Regions from separate parts of the Homo sapiens genome. Here region 2 is linked to region 1. Evidence: fine-mapped expression QTL. A gene starts in region 1. The other region holds a variant in brackets. All regions are shown on one strand. Distances are from middle to middle. Region 1 holds the start of GNA15 (G protein subunit alpha 15). Region 2 overlaps GNA15 (G protein subunit alpha 15).

Region 1 (16,156 bases):
TTCTCCTGTCTCAGCCTCCTGAGTAGCTGGAATTACAGGCACCTGCCACCACATCTGGCTAATTTTTGTATTTTAGTAGTGACAGGGTTTCTCCATGTTGTCCAGGCTGGTCTTGAACTCCTGACCTCAGGTGATCCACCTGCCTCAGCTTCCCAAATTTTTGGGATTACAGCTGTGAGCCACTGCGCCTGGCCTGAAAGGTCTAATATTTTAAGCTTCTACTCCCAAGAAATTAGAAAGAGAAGAGCAAACTAAACACAAACTAAAGAGAAAATAATAGAATAGAAATCAATGGAATAAAAAATAGAAAAACAGTATAGAAAAATCAATAAAGCCATAAGCTGGTTCTTTGAAAAAAATTAATGAAATTGATAAACCTTTAGTCTAGATTCACCCTCCAGAGAGAAAAAGAAATTACCAGCAACAGGCACAAAGGAGGGGATATCATTACTCACCCTAAAGAAATTTAAAGGATAATAAGGGAATACTACAAATAAGTGTATGCACATAAATTTGACAACTTAAAGGAAATGGACCAATTTCTCGAGAGACACAAGCTACCAAAACTCACTCAGGAAGAAACAGAAAACCTGAACAGTCCTATACGTATTAAAGAAACAGAATTTGAAGTTAAAGTCTTCTAAAGAATAAAACATTTGGGAGGCTAAGGCGGGTGGATCACGAGGTCAGGAGATCAAGACCATTCCGGCTAACGCGGTGAAACCTCGTCTCTACTAAAAATACGAAAAAATTAGCTGGGCATGGTGGTGGGTGCCTGTAGTCCCAGCTATTTGGGAGGTTGATATAGGAGAATGGCGTGAACCCGGGAGGCAGAGCTTGCAGTGAGCCAAGATCATGCCACTGCACTCCAGCCTGGGTGACAGAGCGAGACTCTGTCTCAAACAACAACAACAATAAAAAATGAAAAATAAAATAAAACTTTAGGCCCAGATGGTTTTAGTGGTGAATCCTATCAAACATTTAAAGAAAAAATAACATCAAATTCTTCACAATCTGTTTCAGAAAATAGAAGAGGATGGAATACTTCCCAACTCATTTTAAGAGGCCAGTATTATCCTGATACCAAAATTAAAGACAGTACAGGGAAATTACAGATCAGTATACTCAAAAACATAGATACTAAAATCCTTAACAAAATATTAGCAAGTGAAATAATGAAATCCAGTGATATACAGAAAGAAAACCACCTCACCACCAGGTGGCATTTATCCCAGGAATACAAGACAAGCTCAACATTGGAAAATCAGTCAATATAACTTGCCATATTAACAGACGAAAGAAAAACTACATGATCATATCAATAGATAAAGAAAATACATTTGATACAATTCAACTTTCATTCATGATAAAAATTCTAAGCAAATTAGGAGTAGAAAGGAACTTCCTCAACCTGATAAAGGGCATCTGTAACAAACCACAGCTAAACAACAACAACAAAAATACTATTGGCCAGGTGTGGTGTCTCATGCCTGTAATCCCAGCACTTTGGGAGGCTGAGGTGGGTGGATCACCTGAGGTCAAGAGTTCAAGACCAGCCTGGCCAACATGGTGAAACCCCCGTCTCTACTAAAACTACAAAAATTAGCTGGGCGTGGTGGCACATGCCTGTAATTCCAGCTACTCGGGAGGCTGAGGCAGGAGAATCACTTGAACATGGAAGGGGGAGGTTGCAATGAGCCAAGATCACGCCATTACACTCTAGCCTGGGCAACAAGAGCAAAACGCTGTCTCAAAAAAAAAAAAAAAGAAAAGAAAAGAAAAAAAAGAAAAAAATATGTACACAAATGTATATAGCAGCTCTGTTCATGATCACCTCAAACTGGAAGCAACCAAATGCCCCTCACGGTTGGATAAAGGGGAATGCATCCACACAGGGAAATACCACTGGACCATCCAAAGCAACGAACTTCTGATACACTCGGCAACACAGAGGAATCGCAAATGCTAACTGAAAGAAGCCAGTCTCAAAAGCTACTTTCTGGACCAGGTGCGGTGGCTCACGCCTGTAATCCCAACGTTTTGAGAGGCTGAGCTGGGAGGCCAGGAGCTCCTGAGCAGCCTAGGCAACACAGAGAAACCCATCTCTACAAAAATAAAAAAATTAGGGCCGGGCGCGGTGGCATCCGCCTGTAATCCCAGCATTTTGGGAGGCTGAGATAGGTGGATCACTTGAGGCCAGGAGTTCAAGACCAGCCTGGCCAACAGGGCGGAAACTTTGTCTCTACTAAAAATACAAAAATTAGGCGGGCACGGCGGCTCGCACCTGTAATCCCAGCTACTCGGGAGGCTGAGGCAGAAGAATTGCTTGAACCTGGGAGGTAGAGCTTGCAGTGAGCTGAGATCGTGCCACTGCACTCTAACCTGGGCGACAGAGTGAGACTCTGTCTCAAAAAAAAAAAAAAAAAAAAACATTAGATGGTGGTGGTGCGCAGTACTCGGAAGGCTAAGGTGGGAAGATCGCTTGAACCCAGGAGGTCAAGGCTGCAGTAAGCCATGATTGCACCACTGCACTCCAGCCTAGGCGAGAGAGAAGGGCCTTGTCTCAAAAAATAAAATAAAAAACATAGCAACAGCTATTTCCCTCGGAGCGAGCGGGGGCGGCGGCCTGTGCAGCAACGGCCAGGATCAAGGCCCAAGACCTTCTCGGGAAGAAGGAGGAGGAGCTGCTGAAACAGCTGGACGACCTAAAGGTGGAGCTGTCCCAGCTGCGCGTCGCCAAAGTGACGGGCGGCGCGGCCTCCAAGCTCCCTAAGATCCGGGCGCGGTGGCTCACGCCTGTAATCCCAGCACTCTAGGGAGGCCGAGGCGGGCGGATCACGAGGTCAGGAGATCGATACCATCCTGGCTAACACAGCGAAACCCCGTCTCTACTAAAAATACAAAAAAATTAGCCGGGCGTGGTGGCGGGCGGCTGTAATCCCAGCTACTCACTCGGGAGGCTGAGGCAGGAGGATGGGGTGAACCCGGGAGGCGGAGCTTGCAGAGAGCCGAGATCTCGCCATTGCGCTTCTGCCTGGGCGACAGAGGGAGACTCTGTCTCAAAAAAAAAAAAAAAAAAAAAAAAAAAAAAAGATCCGAGTCGTCCGCAAATCCATTGCCCGTGTTCTCACGGTTATTAACCAGACTCAGAAAGAAAACCTCGGGAAATTCTACAAGGGCAAGAAGTACAAGCACCTGCACCTGCGGCCTAAGAAGACACGCGCCGTGCGCCGCCCGCTCAGCAAGCACGAGGAGAACCTGACGATCAAGAAGCAGCAGCAGAGCGAGCAGCTGTCCCCAGTGCGGAAGTGCGCGGTCAAGGCCCGAGTGGCGCGTTGTCAATAAAGCACAGCTGGCTGAGAAAAAAAAAAACAAAAAAAAAAACACCAAAACAAACAAACAAACAAAAAACACAGCCACAAAGAGCCAATCCACGGTCAGGAGGGAGTTGTTCCGGTGATGGAACTACATTCTGTATCCTGTTTATAGCAGTAATTTACACGAATCTCTACAGCTGTTAAAACTCATAGAAACCAGGCCGGGCGCGGTGGCTCACGCCTGTAATCCCAGCACTTTGGGAGGCCGAGGCGGGCGGATCACGACGTCAGGAGATCGAGACCAGTCTGGACAACATGGTGAAACCCCGTCTCTACTAAAATACAAAAAAAATTAGCCCGGCGTGGTGGTGGGCACCTGTAGTCCCAGCTATTCGGGAGGCTGAGGCAGCAGAATGGCGTGAACCCGGGAGGCTCAGCTTGCAGTGAGCCGAGATCGTGCCACTGCACTCCAGCCTGGGTGACAGAGACAGACTCCGTCTCAATAAATAAATAAATAAATAAATAAATAAATAAACTCATAGAACCATACACCAAAGAAAGTAAATACAATGCTACATAAATTTAGACAATTAAAAACAAGATCTTTTTTTGGGGGGGACAGACCCTTGCTCTGTCAACCCAGGCTGGAGTGCAGTGGGTCAATCATAGCTCACTGCAGCCTCAACCTCTCTGGCCTAAGCAATCCTCCCACCTTAGCCTCTGGAGTACCTGGGACCACAGGCATGAGCCACCACCCCCGGCTAATTTATTTTATTTTATTTTTTAGAAATGGGGTCTCACTGGGAAGGTGGAGGTTGCAGTGAGCTGAGACCGAGCCATTGCACTCCAGCCTGGGCAACAATAACAAAACACCGTCTCAAAAAAAAAAAAAAAAAAAAAAAAGAAAGAAAGAAAGAAAAAAGAAAAAAAGAGATAGAGTCTCACTATGTTGCCCAGGCTGGTCTTGAACTCCTGGGGTCAAGCAATCCTCCCACTTCAGCCTCCCAAAGTGCTGAGATTATAGGCATGAGCCAACATGCCCAGCTGAAATAGATCTTATTAGCAAAAAATACCCCCCAAACCCGGAAATAAATATTAATACCACAGAAGTCAGAATGATAGTTACTGCTGGGAAGGTAGAGATTACTATGAGGAAAACACTAGGGGTCTTTGTGGGGCTAAGGTCTTTTTTTTTTTTTTTTTGAGACAGAGTCTTGCTTGTCACCCAGGCTGGAGTGCAGTGGCACGATCTCAGCTCACTGCAACCTCCACCTCCCAGGCTCAAGCAATACTCCTCCCCCGGCCTCCCGAGTAGCTGGGATTACAGGTGTGCACCATCACACCTGGCTAACTTTTCTATTTTTAGTAGAGACGGGGTTTCACCATGTTGTCCAGGCTGGTCTTGAACTCCTGACCTCAGGTGATCTGCCCACCTTGGCCTCCCAAAGTGCTGGGATGACAGGCGTGAGACACCGCGCCCGGCCTGAAAATGTCCTTAGTCTTGGCCTCAGTGGATTCTGTGGATACCGGCTTCACAACAATTTATTAGGTAATACATTCAGGTTTTATGTGTTTTCTGAAAGAAATATTTTCTACACACACAAGCTCACCCTGGTGTTCCCAGCTGAGCTAATAATACACGACAAATGCTCAGCATGTGGCAAGGAAGTAGCTCAGCCCGTTTAGGGAACCGCAAGGGAGGTTTGTTCAGCAGCTGGAGAAGTGGGCAGAGCCTGGGCCCTGGATCCAGGGAGCCGGCTCATTAATTCTGAAGCCAGCGGGAGCCACAGAGGGTCTGCCACCCTGGTCCAGGCTGTGAAGATGGCGGGTGCTGGTATCCTGTCCAAAAATGCCGCAGGGAGATGCTAGGAGAGTGGCCCCCTGGGCTCACCCTGTGGGGCCTGTGGCTCAGCCTCGTCTCCCAGTTTTGCTGGTCATTTCTGTTTCAACCATCCTGGAAGATCTGCACGGCCATGACCTATTTCTGCGTTTCTTTGCCTGTCCTGGGTGGGACTGCCCCTCGTTGCTGCTATCCGGTTGGGGGCGGGAAGGTGGGTGGCTGGGTGGGCAGATGGCACCTGCCAGCCCCAGTGACCAGATGGGGGCCCCTATCGTACTTCCCATCTGTCATTCGTTATGAATCAACAGTGGAGAAAACCACACGTTTGTGCTGAGCTGGTGAAGCTGCGTCAACGGCTGTCACCGAGCCCTGGTGTCTGGGAGGAGGTGGGGACGGTGGCTGCCAATGGCTGTGTGGCCCTGGGCACGTAATTCGCCCTCTCTGTGCCTTGCCCTATCTGTAAAGGGACCAGAGGCCCCCGAAGTACAAGAATTACGTGTATCTCTTGGGGAGGAGAGTTTTGATCCAGAACTTTCTAGAATTTTCTACAGCCTGTCAATGGGGGTGGGGAATCTTCACCCAAACACTCTGGCTCTGAGTACCTAGGAAGCAGCAACGTTTCTACCAAGCTGCCAGCCACCAGCCCACCCCTAGGGCCCTGAAGTCCCAGAGGGATCAGGTCAGGGCGGCCTCATGGCACTCATTGGGAAGATCTCCTTGACCAGTGAGGTCCACTCCCAAAGTCCCTCTTACACCCGATCTGCCTGTCTGACTTCTGATCCTGAATATCACTTGTCTGTGCGACCTTTGTTGATCCATTTAGAGCAATGACCTTGAACCTTCCCCAACAACATCTCTGCTTAATTTTTCTGGCAGAATTTTTCACCATCCAACGGGCTCAGGTGTATTAAAAAATATATATATTTTACACGTGTGTGTATATATATACACACATATATATTTTTATGTATAATATACATATATGTATATTAAAATGTATACTTTTATGTGTGTATATATGTATGTGTATATATGTATGTGTGTCTATATATTGTGTATATATATGTATGTGTATATATGTATGTGTATATACATATATGTATGTGTGTCTATATATTGTGTATATATATGTATGTGTATATATATGTATGTGTGTGTGTGTATATATATACATAGAGAGAGAGGGAGAGTTTTGTTTTGTTTGTTTCTGGAGACAGGGTTTCACTATGTTGCCCAGGCTGGAGAGCAGTGTTATGATCTCGGCTCACTGCAGCCTCCATCTTCGGGGTTCAAGTGATTCCCTTGCCTCAGCCTCCCAAGTAGCTGGGACTACTGGTGCGTGCCAACATGCCCAACTAATTTTTGTATTAGTAGAGATGGAGTTTCTCCATGTTGGCCAGGCTGGTCTCAAACTCCTGACTTCAAGTGATCCTCCTGCCTCGGCCTCCCAAAGTACTTTGATTACAGATGTGAGCTCCCGCACTCACCTGGCCAAATTTTTTATTCTTTTATTTTTTATTTTTTTTGAGATGGAGTCTCACTTCGTCGCCAGGCTGGAGTGCAGTGGCACGATCTCAGCTCACTGCCACCTCTGCCTCCCGGGTTCAAGCGATTCTCTTGCCTCAGCCTCCCAAGTAGGTGGGACTACAGGCGTGCACCACCACGCCCGGCTAATTTTTGTATTTTTAGTAGAGACGGGGTTTCGCCGTGTTGGCCAGGCTGGTCTCGATTTCTTGACTTTGTGATCTGCCCGCCTTGGCCTCCCAAAGTATAGGGATTACATGCGTGAGCCACCAGGCCCAGCCTAAAATTTATTTTATTATCTGTTCTTTAACTAGAACCTTAGGTAAGGAGGTCTGGGATCTGTGTCTCTTGGCTACCGTGCCTGGCACACAGTTGGCGCTCCATGAATGCACGCACAATGAAGGGATGGCCCTGCCTGGAATCTGCCTGGTAGGCGTCTAGACTCTGGGGCCCCGCAGGTGAGGGATAGGCTCCCGGCTCTGCCTTGTGCCAGCCCCACCGGTCACTCCCCTGCTCTATGCCTCAACCTCCTCATCAGTCAAACAGGGATGACAGTAGTAACTATACAGGGTGATGTGAGTGTAAAACCAGCTAATGTGAGCCAAAACCCGGCTAATTTTTGTATCTTTAGTAGAGACAGGGTTTCGCCATGTTGGCCAGGCTGGTTTCGAACTCCTGACCTCAGGCAAGCTGCCCACCTCTGCAGGGTGGATCACCTGAGGTCAGGGCAGAGTCGCTGGAAACAGTCCATGACACCTGGCCTGAGCTGTTTCTTAAAAATATATCAGAAGGGCCGAGCGTGGTGGTTTATGCCTGCAATCCCAGCACTTTGGGAGGCCGAGGCGGGTGGATCACCTGAGGTCAGGAGTTTGAGACCAGCCTGGCCAACGTGGTGGAACCCTTTCTCTACTAAAAATCCAAAGTTAGCCCGGCGTGGTGGTGGATGCCTGTAATCCCAGCTACTCGAGAGGCTGAGGCAGGAGAATTGCTTGAACCTGGGAGGCAGATGTTGCAGAGTCAAGATCCTGCCACTGCACTCCAGCCTGGGCAATAAGAGTGAAACTCTGTCTCAAAAAAAAAAAAAAAAATATATATATATATATATATATATATATATATATATATATATATATATACACATATATATATATACACACACATATATATATGATATATATATAATGTATCAGCAGTAGCACGGGTCTGACGGTTCCTGATTGGCTCCGAGGAGGGGGACAGCTCCGGGTGAAGCCTGAGGAGAATCCGCCCCTTCTCCAGAAGGAGGAAGAAGGGCCCTGCTGGTCACACAGGACCCAGTCTGCGGTGGGGGTTTTCCCGCCACCGCCCCGCCCTCCCTGGGGCCCCCACCTCACCCTCTCCTGGCACCCTTCACCGTCAACCTGTCGGGCCGGGTCTGAGCAGGTCTGGAGGTGGGCGGGGAGCCCTGGCCTCCCCACCTCCTCCCGTCCCCACCCTGTTCCCAGCACTCAAGCCTTGCCACCGCCGAGCCGGGCTTCCTGGGTGTTTCAGGCAAGGAAGTCTAGGTCCCTGGGGGGTGACCCCCAAGGAAAAGGCAGCCTCCCTGCGCACCCGGTTGCCCGGAGCCCTCTCCAGGGCCGGCTGGGCTGGGGGTTGCCCTGGCCAGCAGGGGCCCGGGGGCGATGCCACCCGGTGCCGACTGAGGCCACCGCACCATGGCCCGCTCGCTGACCTGGCGCTGCTGCCCCTGGTGCCTGACGGAGGATGAGAAGGCCGCCGCCCGGGTGGACCAGGAGATCAACAGGATCCTCTTGGAGCAGAAGAAGCAGGACCGCGGGGAGCTGAAGCTGCTGCTTTTGGGTGAGTCCAGGGTCGGTGGGCGGTGGGTGGTGGGCAGTGGGCGGTGGCCAGCCGGCAGGGGTGTCGGGGCAAGGAGGCGGATCAGGCTAGGTCAGACATTGGCATCGTGGAGCCGTCGCCTCCTCCCAGGGAATGGGGAGCCTGGAACCCATTTTCCAGATGAGAAAGACTGAGGTTCAGAGAAGCCAAGTTCCTTGTCCAACGTGCGACCAGCGGCCAGGTGCCCAGGCCTGTCCACTGTGTGGGGCATATACAATAGCAGACGTGGCTCTACCGGGCCCCTGCCGGGCAGGCCCAGCACGCCCTACCTGTCTGTGTCATGGCGAGGGAATGATGAGCTCAGGTGTGCAACCCGTTCTGGCCAGCCCACCCGTAAGGGAGGGGCCGGCTCCAGCCTCTCCTTCACCAGGACGCTCCCTCTCGCCTTTACCTCCCTGCCATGGCTGGAGAGGGCTTGTCTAGGGCTCCTTTGGGGGCTAGAAAGGATGGATTGATTGGTTCATTGGTTCATTCATTCATTATTCATTCATTTAAGATTTATTGGGTAGCTCCCAGGAACGAGGCAGCCAAACAGGGGAAGATATTTCTGTCTTCCTGGATCTCATTTCCTGTGAAGGAGCCAAGACATTTAGTCTGTAAACTCATAAGCAGATAAAATAATTCTGGCAACAAGAATTATCTAGGAGAAAACAAAACAGGGTGATGGCTTCCATGCGGAGGCTTCAGATGGGGGAGTCGACGTCAGTAACGGTTCAAGATTCTGAACTCTGGCTGGGTGCAGTGGCTCAAGCCTGTGATTTCAGCACTTTGGGAGGCCCAGGCGGGTGGGATCACTTGAGGTCAGGAGTTCAAGACACAGCCAGGCCAACATGGTGAAGCCCCGTCTCTACTAAAATACCAAAAATTTGCCAGGCATGGTGGCTCATGCCTGTAATCCCAGCACTTTGGGAGGCCGAGGTGGGTGGATCACAAGGTCGGGAGATCGAGACCAGCCTGACCAACACGGTGAAACCCCATCTCTACCAAAATACCAAAAATTAGCCAGATGTGGTGGTGCGTGCCTGTAGTCCCTGCTACTCGGGAGGCTGAGGCAGGGGAATTGCATGAAACCAGGAGGTGGAGACTGCAGTGAGCTGAGATCATGCCACTGCACTCCAGACTGGCGACAGAGTGAGACGCCATCTCAAACAAATAAACAAACAAACAAAACCAAAAATTAGCTGGGCATGGTGGCACACAGCTATAATCCCAGCTACTCGGGAGGCTGAGGCATGAGAATCGCTTGAACCCAGGAGGCAGAGGTTGCAGTGAGCTGAGATCGGGCCACTGCACTCCAGCCTGGATGACAGAGCAAGACTCATTGTCAATAAATAAATAAATATAAATAAAATAAATAAATAAATCATGCCTGTAATCCCAGCACTTTGGGACGCCAAGGCGGGCAGATCACTTGAGGCCAGGAGTTCGAAATCAGCCTGGTCAACGTGGCGAAACCCCGTCTCTACTCAAAATACAAAAAAATTAGCCGGGTGTGGTGGCATGTGCCTGTAATCCCAGCTACTGGGGAGGCTGAGGCAGGAGAATCGCTTGAAACCAGGAGGTGGAGGCTGCAGTGAGCCAGGATTGCACTATTGCACCCCAGCCTGGGCAACAAGAACAAAACTCCGTCTCAAAAAAAAAAAAATTCTGATCTCTGAAACCTCGGGGTCTTCTCATTCCCGTAGCTTGTTTCCCCAATTACCTTTCCCTGATTATGGCCCCGTTGGCCTAAGCCCGGGATGCTAGCCTGGGAGGGTCTTCTGGGATCCCCGAGCTCTGGGTTGGGGGCTGGAGAAGGTCTCAAGTCTTCTGGACTCGCGTTTGTCTGCCCCGGGCAAAGAGCTTGATCATCCCGTGATGGTTGCTATCGTCCTTTCCTCGTTCAGTGGGAAGAGGCCGCCCGAGAGGAAAGAGAGAGAACATCGAGTGGGATGGTGGGGACCCCCAGGAACTGCACCTTCACTGGGGGCCCTTTCTTTCTTTTTTCTTTTCTTATTTTTATTTTTATTTTTTTGAGACGGAGTCTTGCTCTGTCACCCAGGCTGGGGTGCAGTGGTGCGATCTCAACTCACTGCAACCTCCGCCTCCCGGGTTCAAGCAATTCTCCTGTCTCAGCCTCTTGAGTAGCTGGGATTATAGGCACGCGCCACCACGCCCAGTTAATTTTTTTTTTTTTTGTATTTTTAGTAGAGATGGGGTTCCACCATGTTGGCCAGGCTGGTCTCGAACTCCTGACCTGGTGATCAACCCGCCTTGGCCTCCCGAAGTGTTGGGATTACAGGCGTGAGCCACCGCGCCCAGCCTCTTTTTTTTTTTTTTTCTTTTTTTTTAGATTGAGTCTTGCTCTGTCCCCCAGGTTGGAGTGCAGTGGTGAGATCTCAGCTCACTGCAACCTCCGCCTCCTGGGTTCAAGTGATTCTCCTGCCTCAGTCTCCTGAGCAGCTGGGACTACTGGTGCGCACTACCACACCTGGCTAATTTTTGTATTTTTAGTAGAGATGGGGTTTCACCATGTTGGCCAGGCTGGTCTCGAACCCCTGACCTCAGGTGATCCTACCACCTTGGCCTCCCAAAGTGTGGGGATTACAGGCGTGAGCCACTGCACCCAGTCAAGGGCCCTTTCAACTCTAGCCTTGATCCCTCTTACTGAACGAGATAAAAGAATATCTCAGCAGGGCATAGTGGTTCATTCCTGTAATCTTAGCACTTTGGGAGGCCTAGGTGGGAGGATTGCTTGAGCTTAGGAGTTTCAGACCAGCCTGGGCAACTTAGCAAGACCCAGTCTCTAAAAAAAATAAATAAATAAAATAATTAGCCAGGCATGGTGGTGCGCAACTGTAGTTCCAACTACTTGGGAGGCTGAGGTGAGAGGATCACTTGAGCCTGGGAGGTTGAGGCTGCAGTGAGCTATGATCATGCCACTGCACTCCAGCCTGGGTGACAGAGCAAAGCTGACTCTGTCTCAAAAAAAAAAAAAAAAAAATGCCGGGTGCAGTGGCTCATGCCTGTAATCCCAGCACTTTGGGAGGCCGAGGTGGGCAGATCATGAGGTCAGGAGGTTGAGAACATCCTGGCTAACACGATGAAACCCCGTCTCTACTAAAAATATAAAAAATCAGGGCTGGGTGCGGTGGCTCACGCCTGCAATCACAGCACTTTGGGGGGCCGAGGAGGGTGGATCACGAGGTCAGGAGATGGAGACCATCCTGGCTAATGTGGTGAAACCCCATCTCTACTAAAAATACAAAAATTAGCCAGGCGTGGTGGTGCGCACCTGTAGTCCCAGCTACTTGGGAGGGTGAGGCAGGAGAATTGCTCTAACTTGGAGGCAGAGGTTGCAGTGAGCCAAGATCACACCACTGAACTCCAGCCTAGGCAATAAGAGTGAAACTCCATCTCAAAAAAAAAAAATCTATCTATCTATCTATCTATCTATCTATCTATCTATCTATATTTGACATATTAATGTGTCATATTATGTCACATTATGACGTATCATATCGATATGTCTTATTATTTTAAATAAATAGGGCTACTTAGGCTATCTACTTCTTCTTGTGTGGGTTTTGATCATTTGTGTCTTTCAAATAATTTGTCCATTTTGCCTGTGTTATCAAATTTATTGGCATAACATTTATAACGTTCCCTTGTTCTCCTGCTACTGTCTGTAGGATCTGCAGTGATGTCCTCTCTTTTGCTCTTGGTATCGATCATTTCTGCCTTTGCTCATTTTTTTCTTGATCTATCAAGCTAGGGGTTTATCACTTTTAGTGCTCTTTCCTCGAATACCTCAAGGTCATTTATCCCTGACCTTTGCCTGGCTGGCCCTTTCACTCCATGTAGGTCTCAACCCAAGTGTCGCCTCCTCAGAGAAGTCTTCCCTGACTACCCTAGCTATAAAGACAGTCCTATCTTCTCCTTCCCCTTACTCTGTTTGATTTTTCTTCCTGGCCCTCACTATTTGTTCACTTGTTTATTGTTTATCTCTCCAGCTATACAGCAAGCAACAAAAGGGTAGGGACCACATCTGTCTTCTTCATCCCTGTGTCTCCAGCATCTAGCACAGGTGTACAATGAGCCTGCCATATAGTAGATGCTCAAGAAATGCTGAATGAATGAATGAATGAATGAATGAATCATTTTTGGGGAGAACTTCCCCCAGACACTGTATCATATCTTCCTGGAGCTGGGAAAGTCCCTTCCACATACCACTCTGGGCACTACTCAGCCAGCCTCAAAGCAGGAAGCCCCTTCTACTGATGGAGGGCAGGGGATGACATCCATGTCCCCAGGCACTGATGTAGCACTGTGGACTGTGGTTTAAACCACCTCATCCCTGGAGACAGGTCTGAGGGCAACCTCCAGACCTCTGTCCCTTCTTGGAAACAGGAATTGAATCCAAAAGCTGTTTTTTTTTTACCTGGAGGTGGCTGATCCTTTTGAGGAAGATGGCAAAAAGGACCAGGGTGGGGGTGGGTCTGTCCCTGACATGAAGCAACCCTCATATTGGGGAAGGGGGAGAGTCAGAATGAAGCCGTGAGCCGGGTATGGTGGCACATACCTGTAGTCCCAGTTACTCGGGAGGCTAAGGCAGGAGGATTGCTTGAGCCCAGGAGTTCAAGACCAGCCTGGACAACATTGCGAGACCCAGTCTCTAAACAAAAACAAAAAAAGAAAAGAAAAGAAAGTGAACAACAACAAAAACAGGAAAATAAAGCTGTGAAAGGGACCAGTTATGTCCTTAGCACTTTAAACATTTTATTTTTTATTTTTATTTTTGAGACAGAGTCTTACTCTATCACCCCGGTTGGAGTGCAGTGGTGCGATCTCGGCTCACGGCAACCTTTGCCTCCTGGGTTCAAGCAATCCTCTTGCCTCAGCTTCCTGAGTAGCTGGGACTACAAGTGTGCACCATCATGCCCAGCTAATTTTTGTATTTTTAGTAGAGACGGGGTTTCACCATGTTAGCCAGGCTGGTCTCGAACTCCTGACCTCAGGTGATCCATCTGCCTTGGCCTCCCCAAAGTGACGAGATTAGAGATGTGAGCCATTGTGCCCGGCCTGTTCTTAGCACTTTGAGGCAGGCACTCCTAGTTTCCCCCAAAGGATAAACTGAGGCTCAGAGAGGCAGAGCGACTTGCCCAAGGTCACACAGCTGAGACTCGCACCTAGAATTCTGGTTCCAAAGTCCATGCTCCTGACTGCCCTGTTCGCCTGCCTTGGGGGACAGAAACACCACAGAACCCCAGTGCCAGATGGGGAAAATGAGGCCCAAGGAGGCAGCAGGATTGATTGGGGGTCAGCAGCTAGTTTGAGCCAGAGCGGGACTGAGAGGCCGAGCCTCCTGCCCCTGCGGCTGCCTGGCCTGGCTCCCCACTTCCCCAGCAGCTGCGTTTCCTGTGAGGGCCTGGTGCTGGACTCTGTGCACATAGCTGGCTCCAGTTGCCTTGTGATGACTGGGGCTTGGCACGGTTAACCCAGTTCCTTCCTGGCATCTGCCGGTTCCACTTCCTCCTGTCCTCCTCCGTGCCCAGGAGGAAGCAGGAACTTCCCGTCTGGGCCGCATGGCCTTTGGGGGTATCCTAAAACAGATCACTCCCACCATTTCTATCCAGGAGCTGGGGGATGTCTGGGGGTCGGGGGGCAATGGAGAGGTCCCAGAATCCTTTGTGGCTTCAGGACAGCAATGGATTGCAAAGAGGGGGTTCTCACGCAGCTCTTCAGGCTTCGGGTGATGACCCATCCCTGAGTCATCAAATCTGTGTCGCGGGTGGCAACAGGATTATCATTTATTTCCTATAACAAAGCAGAAGAGGAAAAAAAAATCAGTGCATCACAAAATAAAGCCAACTGTTGCTTGCCAAGACTTATGTTTGTTCTCTGCACTTTGGGGCAAACTAAGATCTGAGAGTTGGAAGACAACTGGGGGACAGGAGCCCAAAAGGTCCAGTCCTGGCTGGGCGCGGTGGCTCAGGCCTGTCATCCCAGCACTTTGGGAGGCTGAGGAGGGGTGGATCACTTGAGGCCAGGAGTTCAAGACCAGTCTGGCCAACATGGTGAAACCTCGTCTCTACTAAAAACACAAAAATTAGCCGGGTGTGGTGGTGCACGCCTCTAATCCCAGCTGCCTGGGAGGCTGAGGCAGGAGAATCGCTTGAACCTGGGAGGAGGAGGTTGCGGTGTGCTGAGATCACACCATTGCACTCCAGTCTGTGTGACAGAGCCAGACTCTATATCAAAAAATAAAAATAAAAACAAAAAGTAAAAAAAAGGAAGAAGAAGATCTGAGGGTTGGAAGGCAATTGGGGGACAGGAGCTCAAAAAGTCCAGTCATCGGCAGTTGGGCTCAATGCCACACCCCAAGGAGCTGTCGAGCCTCCCAGACTCTGTAAAAACATTGCTTTAACAGACGTGTTAATGACACCTACCCCAGCTCGACTGGCCGTGTCCCATTTTGTTGGTGAAGGACTCACACGACCCCAAGTTTACTCCCCTGGGGTTCCACTTGCTGTGTGACCCAAATTAAGTCACTAAACCTCTCTGGTCCTCTGTGTCTCATCTGCAAATGGGAAAATCATAGAATCTGTGAGGATTAACTGGGGATCCGTAGAGTCTCTGGGCTCGGGGTTGGGAAGACGGTAAGATTTAAATCATGCTAGCTGTGATTTTTATTATGATTGTTATAATCATTCAGGCAGGGTAAAGGAACCTCCAGGTATAATAATTTAGAAACCCATAAGCTCAAGGTGGCTCATGCCTGTAATCCCAGTACTTTGGGAGGCCAAGGCAAGTGGATCCCTTGAGGCCAGGAGTTCGAGACCAGCCTGGCCAAAATGGCAAAACCCTGTCTCTACTAAAAATACAAAAATTAGCCGGACACGGTGGTGCACACCTGTAATGACAGCTAGTCTGGAGGTTGAGGCAGGAGAATCGCTTGAAACCCATGAGGTGGAGGTTGCAGTGAGCCAATATCAAGCCACTGCACTCTAGCCTGGGTGACAGAGTGAGACCCTGTCTCAAAAATAATAATAATAATAAAAAATAAAAGCCCATAGGCTCTAGACTCAAACAGAACTGAGTTTGAATCCCAGTCTGCCACTCACCAGGACCATTGAAGGAATTGTGCGACCCACAGCAATTCCCTCAACGGCCCCGAGACTGAGTTTCCCCACATGGAAACAGGGCTAAGAGTTGTCCCTCTCTTGGCCAGGCGCAGTGGCTCACGCCTGTAATCCCAGCACTTTGGGAGGACGAGGCGGGTGGATCACAAGGTCAGGAGATCGAGACCATCCTGGCTAACATGGTGAAACCCCGTCTCTACTAAAAAAAAACAAAAAAAATTAGCTGGGCATGGTGGTGGGCGCCTGTCGTCCCAGCTGCTTGGGAGGCTGAGGCAGGAGAATGGCGTGAACCCGGGAGGTGGAGCTTACAGTGAGCCGAGATCGCGACACTGCACTCCAGCCTGGGCGATAGAGCAAGAAAGACTCCCTCTCAAAAAAAAAAAAAAAGAGTTGTCCCCCTCTCGTGGTGAGGCTCAGGACAGATGGTGGGACTCCAGCTCTTAGCTCACCAGGGACACCCAGTCAAGGGCCAGCAA
Region 2 (12,217 bases), 26 kb after region 1:
TTGCATGCACTCACGTGCACAATACACGCATATGTACACATGCGCACACACATGAACACACACATGCACACACACAGTACACACATGCACACGCACACACAGGCACACACACGCACACACAGGCACACAGGCACACACATGCGTGCACACACACATGCACGCACACGCACAGGCTGGAGTGCAGTGGCGCGATCTCGGCTCACTGGAAACTCCGCCTCCCGGGTTCACACCATTCTCCTGCCTCAGCCTCCGGAGTAGGTGGGATTACAGGCACCCGCCACCACGCTCGGCTAATTTTTTTTTTGTATTCTTAGAAGAGAGGGGGTTTCACCATGTTAGCCAGGATGGTCTCAATCTCCTGACCTCGTGATCCGCCCGCCTCGGCCTCCCAAAGTGCTGGGATTACAGGCGTGAGCCACTGTGCCCAGCCAATAGCCTCTTTTAATAAGTACACCAGTCGTCTAGGATCAGGGCCCACCCTACTCCAGTACGACCTCATCTGGGTTAATTCCTCGTGTGATGGCCCTGTTTCCAAAGAAGGTCACAAACTGAGGTTCTAGGGGGTTAGGTCTTGAACGTATGAATTTTGGGGAAATATGATGTACCCCATAACACAAGGCATTTGAGACCTTATTGTACTTTTTTTTTTGAGATGGAGTCTCGCTTTTGTCGCCCAGGTTAGAGTGCAGTGGCGCGATCTCAGCTCACTGCAACCTCCGCCTCCCGGGTTCAAGCGATTTTCCTGCCTCAGCCTCCCGAGTAGCTGGGTTTACAGGCACCTGCCATCATGCCCGGCTAATTTTTTGTATTTTTAGTAGAAACGGGGTTTCACCATGTTAGCCAGGCTGGTCTCCAACTCCTGGCCTCAGGTGATCTGCCCGCCTTGGCCTCCCAAAGTGCTAGGATTACAGCCGTGAGCTGCCGCGCCCGGCCAGGTCTCCCTCTTCTTATGAGGACAGCAGTCACGGACTTGAGGGCCACCGTATTCTAGTATTGCCTCACCTTAACGACCTCTTCAAAGACCCTATCTCCAGGCCAGGTGCAGTGGTTCATGCCTATAACCCCAGCACGCTGGGAGGCCAGGAGTTCAAGAATCTCTCTCCAGATAAGGTCACACTCTGAAGCTCTGGGGGGACATGAATTTCGGGAGGACACACTTCCAACCAGCACAGGCACAAAACCATGTCAGGCACACCCAGGCAGCTGTCCATATGGAAACACGGGCACACCCGCCTCAGCCCCAGCCAGGCAGATAGGGGTGAGCCCATGCCCCTGGAGCCAACAGCCCCGTCTCCGCGATGGGAGGGTTTCCTGTCCCACCTGGCTGGTTGAAGCACTAACCTGCTTCTGCCCCCAACACAGAACCGCATGAAGGAGAGCCTCGCATTGTTTGGGACTATCCTGGAACTACCCTGGTTCAAAAGCACATCCGTCATCCTCTTTCTCAACAAAACCGACATCCTGGAGGAGAAAATCCCCACCTCCCACCTGGCTACCTATTTCCCCAGTTTCCAGGGTAAGTAATTCTAGAACTTTCTATACCCTTCAACTCCCAAAAGCAGCTCCGAAGAGAGATGCTAATCCAGACTCTACTTCAGCCTGGAGTCACCGGAACTTTCACATAGGATCAGACCCGCGTTCTAGACTCAGCTCCATCCACTGCCCGACCTCATTGAATCTGTTTTCCCTTCTGTGGAATGGAATAAAATAGCAGAGGCCCTTGGAACTGAGTAAAGTGAGGAATTCTAAAAACACGTAGCATATCACGTACACCTTAAACATTTTATTTATTTATTTATTTTTGAGACAGAGTCTTGCTCTGTCACCAGGCTGGAGTGCAGTGGCGTGATCTCGGCTCACTGCAACCTTTCCCTCCAGAGTTCAAGCGATTCTCCTACCTCAGCCTCCCTAGTAGCTGGAACTACAGGTGCGCGCCACCACGCCCAGCTAATTTTTGTGTTTTTAGTACGAAAAGACGGGATTTCACCATGTTGACCAGGATAGTCTCGATCACTTGACCTCCTGATCCACCCGCCTCAGCCTCCCAAAGTGCTAGGATTATAGACAGGAGCCACCATGCCCGGCCAAACATTTTATTTTATGCTTGTTGGCCAACATTTGGGGTTTGAGCCAAGATCCTTCAAGCATGGGTTTGCTATGTAGAGGTCACTGTTGTAAAGCACTTCTGGAAAGATTGTCTACTATTTCCAGAATCTGCCTAGGTTTTAAGAATGATTCTTTTTCTTTTCTTTCTTTCTTCTATTTTTTCTTTTTGAGACAGAGTCTCACTCTGTCACCCAGGCTGGAGTACAGTGGTGCGATCTTGGCTCATGGCAACCTCCAACTCCCCGGTTCAAGTGATTCTCCTGCCTTAGCCTCCCAAGTAGCTGTGATTACAGGCACGTGCCACCAAGCCTGGCTAATTTTTAGTAGTTTCCTGTCCTATTTTTAGTAGAGATGGGGTTTCACCATGTTGGTCAGGCTGGTCTCGAACTGACCTCAAGTGATCCACCTACCTCAGCCTCCCAAAGTGCTGGGATTACGGGCGTGAGCCACCGCATCTGGCCATAACGTTTCTTTTTCTAATCTTTCATAGTGATCTCATCTATCCCTAATTGGATAGCAATTTCTTTTTCTTTAATCCATTTTTTCTTTAATTTTTTTTTGTTTGTTTTTTGAGACGGAGTCTCGCTCTGCTGCCCAGGCTGGAGTGCAGTGGCGCAATCTCAGCTCACTGCAAGCTCTGCCTCCTGGGTTCACACCATTCTGCTGCCTCAGCCTCCCGAGTAGCTGGGATTACAGGTGCCCGCCAGAACGTCTGGCTAGTTTTTTGTATTTTTGGTCGAGATGGGGTTTCATCATGTTACCCAGGTTGGTCTCAATCTCCTGACCTCATGATCCACCTGTCTCGGCCTCCCAAAGTGCTGGGATTACAGGCGTGAGCCATCGTGCCCAGTCTATTTTTTCTTTAATTTCTTTTCTTTTTTTTTTTTTTTTTGAGATGGAGTTTTGCTCTTTTTGCCCAGGCTGGAGTGCAATGGCACAATCTCGGCTCACCGCAACCTCCGCCTCCCGGGTTCAAGGGATTCTCCTGCCTCAGCCTCCCGAGTAGCTGGGATTGCAGGCATGAGCCACCACCCCGGCTAATTTTGTGTTTTTAGTAGAGACGGGGTTTCTCCATGTTGGTCAGGCTGGACTTGAACTCCCGACCTCAGGTGATCCACCCGCCTCGGCCTCAAAGTGCTGGGATTACAGGCGTGAGCCACCACACCTGGCCTTTCTCTTTAATTTTTAAAGCAGAGCTTTGAACAATGTTTCCAAAGCACACAGCTTAGTTTTGTAATACAATGACCTTCTTTCATGCGGCACTTGTAGCTACAGATTTGCATAACGTTTCTTTTAATTACATATGAATCAAGACACGTACAATGGGCAAAAACAGGTTTGGGAACAAACTCTCAGTCCATCCAGAGGGTGAAAGGGCCACAGGGCAACTACAGAGAAACACCATCTAGTGTTGGGCACCACTTAGTATATTTTACAAAGGGGAGGCAGAGTTGTGGTTAATCCAGGGACCAACGTGGGGAAGGTACATATTCACTAGCACTTTCCCCAGAACACCACTGTGAGGATAAAGTGTGGTGGCGGGTGTCCTGCTTAGCTACTGCCGAGTAACAAACCATCCCCAAACTTAGTGACTTAAACTGGTCATTTTCCTTTGCTTATGATTTTGTGGGTCAGGAATTTGGGAAAGGTTGAGCTGGGTAAGTTCATCTCTGATCCATGTGACATCAGCTGGGCTCTATGGGATTGGAGATAAACTTCCAAGATGGCTTCTTCCCCCATATGTCTGGTGCCTTGGTGCTCTTGGCACTCTTGGCCTCTCTCTCTGTGTCTCTCCCTGCCTCCCTCTCCCATCTCATCTCTCTCTCCTCCCCTTTCTCCTAGTCTGTCTCTCCTTTTCCACCTCCCCTGTTCTCTCTGTCTCCATCTGGGGCCTCATGATCCACAGCCTCTTCACATGGTTTGAGCTTACTCACAATATGGCTGCCTCAGGGTAGACAGACTTCAGCCCAGGTGGAAGCTGCTTCTCATGATAGCCTCAGAAATGTCAGACGTTACTCTGCCACATTCTATTTGTCAAGCACATCACTCATATCAGCCCGGATTCAAAAGAAAGAGACTCCATCTCTTGAAGGCAGCATGACACATGCATACAGGGAGGGAAGGAAGTGACGGCAGCCATCTTGGAGATAACTTGCCTTCATGTCCTGGGGATGCCGTAACAAAGTACCACAAACTGGGTGGCTTAAAACAACAGGAAACAACAGAAGTCCAAAGTTAAGGTATTGGCAAGGTTGGTTCCTTTTGGAGGCTCTAAGGGAAAATCCATTCCATGCTTCTCTCTCAGCTTCTGGTGGTGGCCTACAATCCTTAGCTTGTAGACATATCACTGCAATCTCTGCCTCCATGTTCACATGGCTGTCTTCTCACCATGCCTTTATGTGTCCTCTCCTGTTGTTATAAGGCCACCAGTCATTGGATTTAGGGCCCATACTTTGGTATGACCACTTTTTTTTTTTTTTTTTTTTTTTGAGACAAGGTCTTGCTCTGTTGCCCAGGCTAGAGTCCAGTGGTGTGATCACAGTTCACTGCAGCCTCAACCTCCTGGGCACAGGTGATCCTCCCACCTCAGCCTCTTGAGTTGCTGGGACTACAGGCGCACACCACCACACCTGGGTAATTTTTGTATATTTCTGTAGAGACAGGGTTTCGCCATGTTGCCCAGGCTGATCTGGAACTCCTGGGCCCAACCACACATCTGTCATCCACCTGCCTTGGCCTTCCAAAGTGCTAGGATTACAGGCGTGAGCCCTCATGCCTGGCCATGACCTAATTTAACTTAACTAATTACATCTGCAAATATCCGATTTCTAAAAGTCATATTCTGAAGTTCCAGGTGGACATGAATTTTGGGGGACACTGTTCACCTCAATATACAAGCAACCATAGTAGATGAGTCCTTAGTACATGCTTGACACCAGGTCCACAATCAGTAAACATAAACTTTGGTGAAGTCACCAGGTTTTGATCCCTGGTCTTGTCATGTCTCAGAGCCCATGAGGCCAATTTTAGCCAATTATACCCACAAGATTCAGGGTCTGGGAGATAGACGTCAAGTTGTTCCAGGATGGTGGCCTGGATAGCCCCTCTTCCTTGCCAAGCAGCCCTGGGAATCAGCTCATAGTTTAGAGAATTTGGGAACAGGATAAGGTAGATATTTTTTTCATTCAGGTCAAAGGGAACCACCCATGACTCATCCTTGTCTCCCAGCACAAGTGACTGGTGCACTCTTTGCTGACTCCCAGCCCTACCCTCCACTGTGCTAAATAATATTTGTGATAATAATAAGAAACCACACTTTGGGAGGCTGAGGCGCGCAGATCGCTTTAGGTCAGGAGTTTGAGACCAGCCTGGCCAACATGGCAAAGCCCCATCTCTGTTAAAAATACAAAAATTAGCTGGGTGTGGTGGCGGGGGCCTGTCATCCCAGTTACTCGGGAGGCTGAGGCAGGAGAATCGCTTGAACCCAGGAGGTGGAGGTTGCAGTGAGCTGAGATCATGCCACTTCACTCCAACCTGGGTGACAGAGTGAGACTCTGTCTCAAAATAATAATAATAATAATAATGATAATAATAATAAAATTGATAACAGCAGCTAACACATCTACCGCACTGGTGGAAGCACTCTACAAAGCTTCTTTAATCTTCATGTTAAAACCCTATGCAGGGCTGGGCACAGTGGCTCACGCCTGTAATCCCAGCGCTTTGGGGGGGTCAAGGCGGGCTGATCATTTGAGGTCAGGAGTTCGAGACCAGCCTGGCCAACATGGCAAAACCCCATCTCTACTAAAAATACAAAAATTACCTGGGCATGGTGGCAGGCGCCTGTAATCCCAGCTACTGCCAAGATTGCACCATTGCACTCCAGCCTGGGCGACAGAGCGAGGCCCCATCTCAAGAAAAAAAAAAAGAGGACTCTCTTCCCCTCGTTTGGCCTTGATGCCGCCATCTTCACAGTCCTGGGATATTTGTCTATGCGATTCCAGTCTTCCAACTGCACTGGCTGTAAGCGAGGCCAAGAGAGTGTCTCTCTTTAACACAGTTCTGCCCGAAGTCCCAGAGCTGGGTCTCATTGGTCCATTTCAGGTCACATGACTCGTGTGAGACAATCTCCTGTGTTCCCATTGGCTGGGCCGGAGTCGTGTGACCAGCTATGACTACAAAAGATGGAGTCAACGCACAGAAAAATGACAGGCGCGATCCCTGGGTCCCTTCAGTGCTGGTTACAGGGAAGAGGGTCTCCAGAGGCCCCCTGGGTCCAAAGAGGGAGGGTCCTCACCCCCTTCCCACACTGTTTCCCCAGGCCCTAAGCAGGATGCTGAGGCAGCCAAGAGGTTCATCCTGGACATGTACACGAGGATGTACACCGGGTGCGTGGACGGCCCCGAGGGCAGCAAGAAGGGCGCACGATCCCGACGCCTCTTCAGCCACTACACATGTGCCACAGACACACAGAACATCCGCAAGGTCTTCAAGGACGTGCGGGACTCGGTGCTCGCCCGCTACCTGGACGAGATCAACCTGCTGTGACCCAGGCCCCACCTGGGGCAGGCGGCACCGGCGGGCGGGTGGGAGGTGGGAGTGGCTGCAGGGACCCCTAGTGTCCCTGGTCTATCTCTCCAGCCTCGGCCCACACGCAAGGGAGTCGGGGGACGGACGGCCCGCTGCTGGCCGCTCTCTTCTCTGCCTCTCACCAGGACAGCCGCCCCCCAGGGTACTCCTGCCCTTGCTTGACTCAGTTTCCCTCCTTTGAAAGGGAAGGAGCAAAACGGCCATTTGGGATGCCAGGGTGGATGAAAAGGTGAAGAAATCAGGGGATTGAGGACTTGGGTGGGTGGGCATCTCTCAGGAGCCCCATCTCCGGGCGTGTCACCTCCTGGGCAGGGTTCTGGGACCCTCTGTGGGTGACGCACACCCTGGGATGGGGCTAGTAGAGCCTTCAGGCGCCTTCGGGCGTGGACTCTGGCG[C/T]ACTCTAGTGGACAGGAGAAGGAACGCCTTCCAGGAACCTGTGGACTAGGGGTGCAGGGACTTCCCTTTGCAAGGGGTAACAGACCGCTGGAAAACACTGTCACTTTCAGAGCTCGGTGGCTCACAGCGTGTCCTGCCCCGGTTTGCGGACGAGAGAAATCGCGGCCCACAAGCATCCCCCCATCCCTTGCAGGCTGGGGGCTGGGCATGCTGCATCTTAACCTTTTGTATTTATTCCCTCACCTTCTGCAGGGCTCCGTGCGGGCTGAAATTAAAGATTTCTTAGAGGCTGCGTCGCCAGCGTCCTGTTTATCCCCTCTGCATTCCTTTCTCGGCTTACGTGTCCCGGGGGCAGTGCTTACAGTGCGGGGAGCAACGTGGAGTAGGAAGGAAAAAAGTTATACTTCTTGTCTACCCACCTGTCCTGGCCATGGTACCCAGAACTGTGGAGGCTGTGAGTCCCGCAAGCCGGGACGTGGAGTCCAACCTCCCTCCCAGGCTGGGGGGGACATTGAAGCAGACTCCTCCGTGGCTACTGACCTGAAATTCCAGTAGCAGCCCCCACCCAGCTTTGAGAAGGCCTCTTACTATCCTCAGGGCAGTGTTCTGGGGTGCAAGCCGTAGCACCCCACTTTACAGGTGAGGAAACCGGGGCGCAGAGAAGTGGAGTAATTTGACTAAGCTCACACACCTGGAATTGACAGAGGCAGGAGCCTGTTCCTACGTTGAACACATTTGTGGTTTTTTATTTGTTTGTTTTTTGAGACAATCTCACTTGGTTGCCCAGGCTGGAGTGCAGTGGTGCGATCTCGGTTCACTGCAGCCTCTGCCTCCTGGGTTCAAGTGATTCTCATGCCTCAGCCTCTGCAGTAGCTGAGATTACAGGCACCCGCCACCACACCTGGCTACTTTTTTTTTTTTTGATGGAGTCCCGCTCTGTGGCCCAGGCTGGAGTGCAGTGGCGCAATCTCGTCTCACTGCAACCTCCACCTCCCAGGTTCAAGTGATTCTCCTGCCTCAGCCTCCTGAGTAGCTTGGACTACAGTTGTGTGCCATCACACCTGGCCATATTTTTGTATTTTTAGTAGAGACAGGGTTTCACCATGTTGGCCAAACTGGTCTCAAACTCCTGACCTCAAGTGATCCGCCTCCCTCGACCTCCCAAAGTGCTGGGATTACAGGCATGAGCCACCACACCTGGCCTAATTTTTCTTCTTATAAAAACACTAGTCACACTGGATCAGGGTCCAGCCTGTCATCCCCATCTTAACTTGATTACATCGGCAAAGACCGTATTTCTAAATAAGGTCCCATTCACAGATACCGGGGGTTATGACTTCATCATATCTTTGTAGGGGAGCCACATTTGAACCTATAAAAGGTATTTTGTAATACAAAAAGGAGCCGGGCGTGGTGGTGCATGCTTGCAATCCCAGCTAATTGGGAGGCTGAAGCATGAGAGTTGCTTGAACCCGGGAGGCGGAGGTTGCGGTGAGCCAAGATCCTGCCACTGCACTCTAGCCTGAGCGACAGAGTGAGACCTTGTCTCAAATAATAAATAAATAAATACATAAATAAATAAATAAATATAAAAGTATGTTATAGAAACCCTCTCCACTGAGTTTGGTCTGACATTTTGCTGCTGGTCAGACTGGGGTGATGGGTTTCAGGGAGGAAGACCTCAGTGGTGACAGCCCTTCTCACCACATCCTATCTTTCTGTTTTTTTTTTGAGACGGAGTCTCACTCTGTCACCCAGGCTGGAAGTGCAGTGGTGTGATCTCGGCTCACTGCAAGCTCCGCCTCCCAGGTTCACACCATTCTCCTGCCTCAGCCTCCCGAGTAGCTGGGATTACAGGCGCCCGCCACCACGCCTGGCTAATTTTTTGTATTTTTAGTAGAGACGGGCTTTCACCGTGTTAGCCAGGATGGTCTCAATCTCCTGACCTTGTGATCCGCCCGCCTCGGCCTCCCGAAGTGCTGGGATTACAGGTGTGAGCCACCGCGCTCTGCCTCTTGTTGTTGTTTTGTAAGAATTTTAGACTCACAGAAAAGTTGCAGAAGTTGTACACAGTTCCCAAATGCCCTCCACCCAGCTTCCTCTTACCTCTTACGTAACCCTAGTACAACCCAGGAAATTCACATCAGCGAGCGTCCTATGAACGAACCTGTGTGTAGACCTTACTAGAATGTGGCGGGTTCTCGCTCCCGTCCTCCTTTCCTGGACCAGGATCCAATCCCGGATCCCACATCGCCATGAGCTGCCTCCCTCTCCTCATTCTGGGGCAGTGCCTCAGTTTCCTTTGTGACACGTCGGAGGAGTTTTGCTTGGTTGTTTCTTGAGCCGTTCCTCAGGTTGGGTTGGTGTGAGGTTTGCTGGTGACAGAAAGGGATGTCAGAGCCACTCAGGGCATCACCTGACTGGGTTCATCATGACAAAGTGGCTCATCCCTGGCGATCATACGTTGCGGATGTCTTTTCACCATTGGTTGGTCGGAGTCAGGACCCAAACAAAGCCCGTGCGTGGCGCTTGGGTGCTGTGTCTCTTAAGTCTCTTTCCTCTTTTTTTTTTTTTGAGACGGAGTCTTGCTCTGTCACCCAGGCTGGAGTGCAGTGATGCGATCTCGGCTCACTACAAGCTCTGCCTCCCGGGTTCATGCCATTCTCCTGCCTCAGCCTCCTGAGTAGCTGGGACTACAAGTACCCGCCACCACGCCCGGGTAATTTTTTGTATTTTTTAGTAGAGACGGGGTTTCACTGTATTAGCCAGGATGGTCGCGATCTCCTGAACTCGTGATCCAACCGCCTTGGCCTCCCAGAGTGCTGGAATTACAGGCGTCAGCCACCGCGCCCAGCCTCCTCTTTTTTTTTTTTTTTTTTGAGACAGAGTTTTACTCTTGTCACCCAGGCTGGAGTGCAGTGGTGTGATCTCAGCTCACTGCAACCTGCACCTCCTGGGTTCAAGCGATTCTCTTGCCTCAGCCTCCTGAGTAGCTGAGATTACAGGCATGCGCTACCACACCTAGGTAATTTTTATATTTTTAGTAGAGACGGAGTTTTGCCATGTTGGCCAGGCTGGTATCGAACTCCTGACCTCAGGTGATCCTCCCGCCTCGACCTCCCAAAGTGCTGGGATTACAGGCGTGAGCCACTGTGCCCAGCCATGACCCAGTGGGTCTTAAGAGTTTTTTGACTGGGCACAGCGAGATGCTTTTAACTCATCCTTTACTTTGTCAGCTTCAGATCTGCACTGGATCGTTTCTCCAAGGAGCCCTCTTTCCTTTGAATGGGAGATGATATTTAGAGACCACAATCTGAGCACCAAGTGAGGAAACACATCTTGTCTTTTTTTTTATTATTATACTTTAAGTTCTAGGGTACATGTGCACAACTGTGCTGGTTTATTACATAGGTATACATGTGCTGTGTTGGTTTACTGCACCCATTAACTCGTCATTTACATTAGGTATTTCTCCTAATGCTATCCCTCCCCCCTCCCCTCACCCCACGACAGGCCCCGGTGTGTGATGTTCCCCACCCTGTGTCCACGTGTTCTCATTGTTCAGTTCCCACCTATGAGTGAGAACATGCGGTGTTTGGTTTGCTGTCCTTGTGATGGTTTGCTCAGAATGATGGTTTCCAGCTTCATCCATGTCACTACAAAGGACATGAACTCATCCTTTTTTATGGCTGCATAGTATTCTGTGGTGTATATGTGCCATATTTTCTTTTTCTTTTTTTTTGAGACGGAGTCTCACTCTGTCACCCAGGCTGGAGTGCAGTGGTGCAATCTGGGCTCACTGCAAGCTCCGCCTCCCGGATTCATGCCATTCTCCTGCCTCAGCCTCCTGAGTAGCTGGGATTACAGGCGCCCACCAGCAAGCCCGGCTAATTTTTTGTATTTTTAGTAGAGACGGGGTTTCACCGTGTCAGCCAGGATGGTCTCGATCTCCTGACCTTGTGATCTGCCCGCCTCAGCCTCCCAAAGTGCTGGGATTACAGGCGTGAGCCATCACGCCCGGCCTGTGCCACATTTTCTTAATCCAGTCTATCATTGATGGACATTTGGGTTGGTTCCAAGTCTTTGCGGAAACACATCTTTTGTTCGCTTATTTTTAGTGCAAAAATATTTGAAACCTACAGAAGTTACAAAACCATTACAATGTATTCCCCTGTATTTTTCATCCAGGTCAGGAGCCGGCAAACTGCTACCCACAGGCCAAATACTACTTCAATTGCTTTTGTAAAGTTTTATTGAAACACGGTCATGTCCATTCATGTACCTGTGTCTACGCAGGCTGTTCCTGCATCCATGGAATTGAGTAACTGCCACTGATACTGTCTGGCCCCAAAAGCCAAAAATATTTACTATTTGGCCTTTTTGTTTTGTTTTGTTTGTTTTTTACTCCCCTTAAAGACAAGGTCTTGCTCCGTCACCCAGGCTGGTGTGCAGTGGTGCAACCTCAGCTCACTGCTGCCTCCAACTCCTGGGCTGAAGGGTTCCTCCTGCCTCAGCCTCCCCGGGGATTCCAGGCATAAGCCCCTGTGTCCGGCCAGGTGTGAGTTTTCGAGTGGACATGCTTGCATTCCTCTTGAGTGTGACCCTAGCGACAGAATTGCTGGGTCATGTGCTGAGGTCATCCATCCATTTCTAACCCAGGGTTGGCCGGCAGCAGCCCCTCCGAGCTGGCTCCTGTGTTCTTTGCCAGGTCCTCCTCCCTCTGTGATCACGCCCTCCCTCTCTGGCACACTGAGATGTTCCAGGCTCATCTCCTGCCCTACTCTTGGAATCAACCCTTCCTCCCAGGTTCCCTGGATCCTTTCAGCAAGGGGCTGTAGGGGGAGGGAGGTGATCTTTAGAAGCCACGATCTGGGCACTAGGTGCTCCTTGCTCTGGGATTGTCTCAGTGGAAAGTTAGGACAGGGTTTTTTTATGTTTTTTGCATAAATCATGAGATCCTGAATTCACACTGATATTTGCAATCCTTTCTTTTTTTTTTTTTTTGAGACAGAGTCTTGCTCTGTCACTGAGGCTAGAGTGCAGCAGCACGATCTCGACTCACTGCAACCTCCACCTCCTCGGTTCAAGCGATTCTCCTGCCTCAGCCTCCCAAGTAGCTGGGATT

The links. PIP is the estimated chance that this variant, and not a neighbour inherited with it, causes the effect.
Region 2: its variant is fine-mapped to the expression of GNA15 in whole blood (TOPMed, PIP above 0.99). The same link has a PIP of 0.9 or more in blood mononuclear cells.

What each region holds. Positions count from the first base shown.
Region 1 is chr19:3,128,076-3,144,231 of GRCh38, forward strand. It overlaps GNA15 (G protein subunit alpha 15), which reads left to right and starts at 7,958. Exons shown (of 7, transcript NM_002068.4): 1 at 7,958-8,520. The coding sequence starts at 8,376. It overlaps GNA15-DT (GNA15 divergent transcript), which reads right to left. Exons shown (of 4, transcript NR_110670.1): 3 at 14,988-15,118; 4 at 13,501-14,355. It also overlaps the pseudogene RPL35P10. RefSeq lists an enhancer at 13,471-13,971.
Region 2 is chr19:3,156,366-3,168,582 of GRCh38, forward strand. GNA15 (G protein subunit alpha 15) reads left to right here. Exons shown (of 7, transcript NM_002068.4): 6 at 1,363-1,516; 7 at 6,428-7,384. The coding sequence ends at 6,654. Among named protein-coding and RNA genes, the nearest start is that of GNA15-DT, 7.3 kb to the left of the region's middle. RefSeq lists enhancers at 6,086-6,380, 6,184-7,045, 7,046-7,906. The variant C/T (reference allele first, on the strand shown) is at 7,093.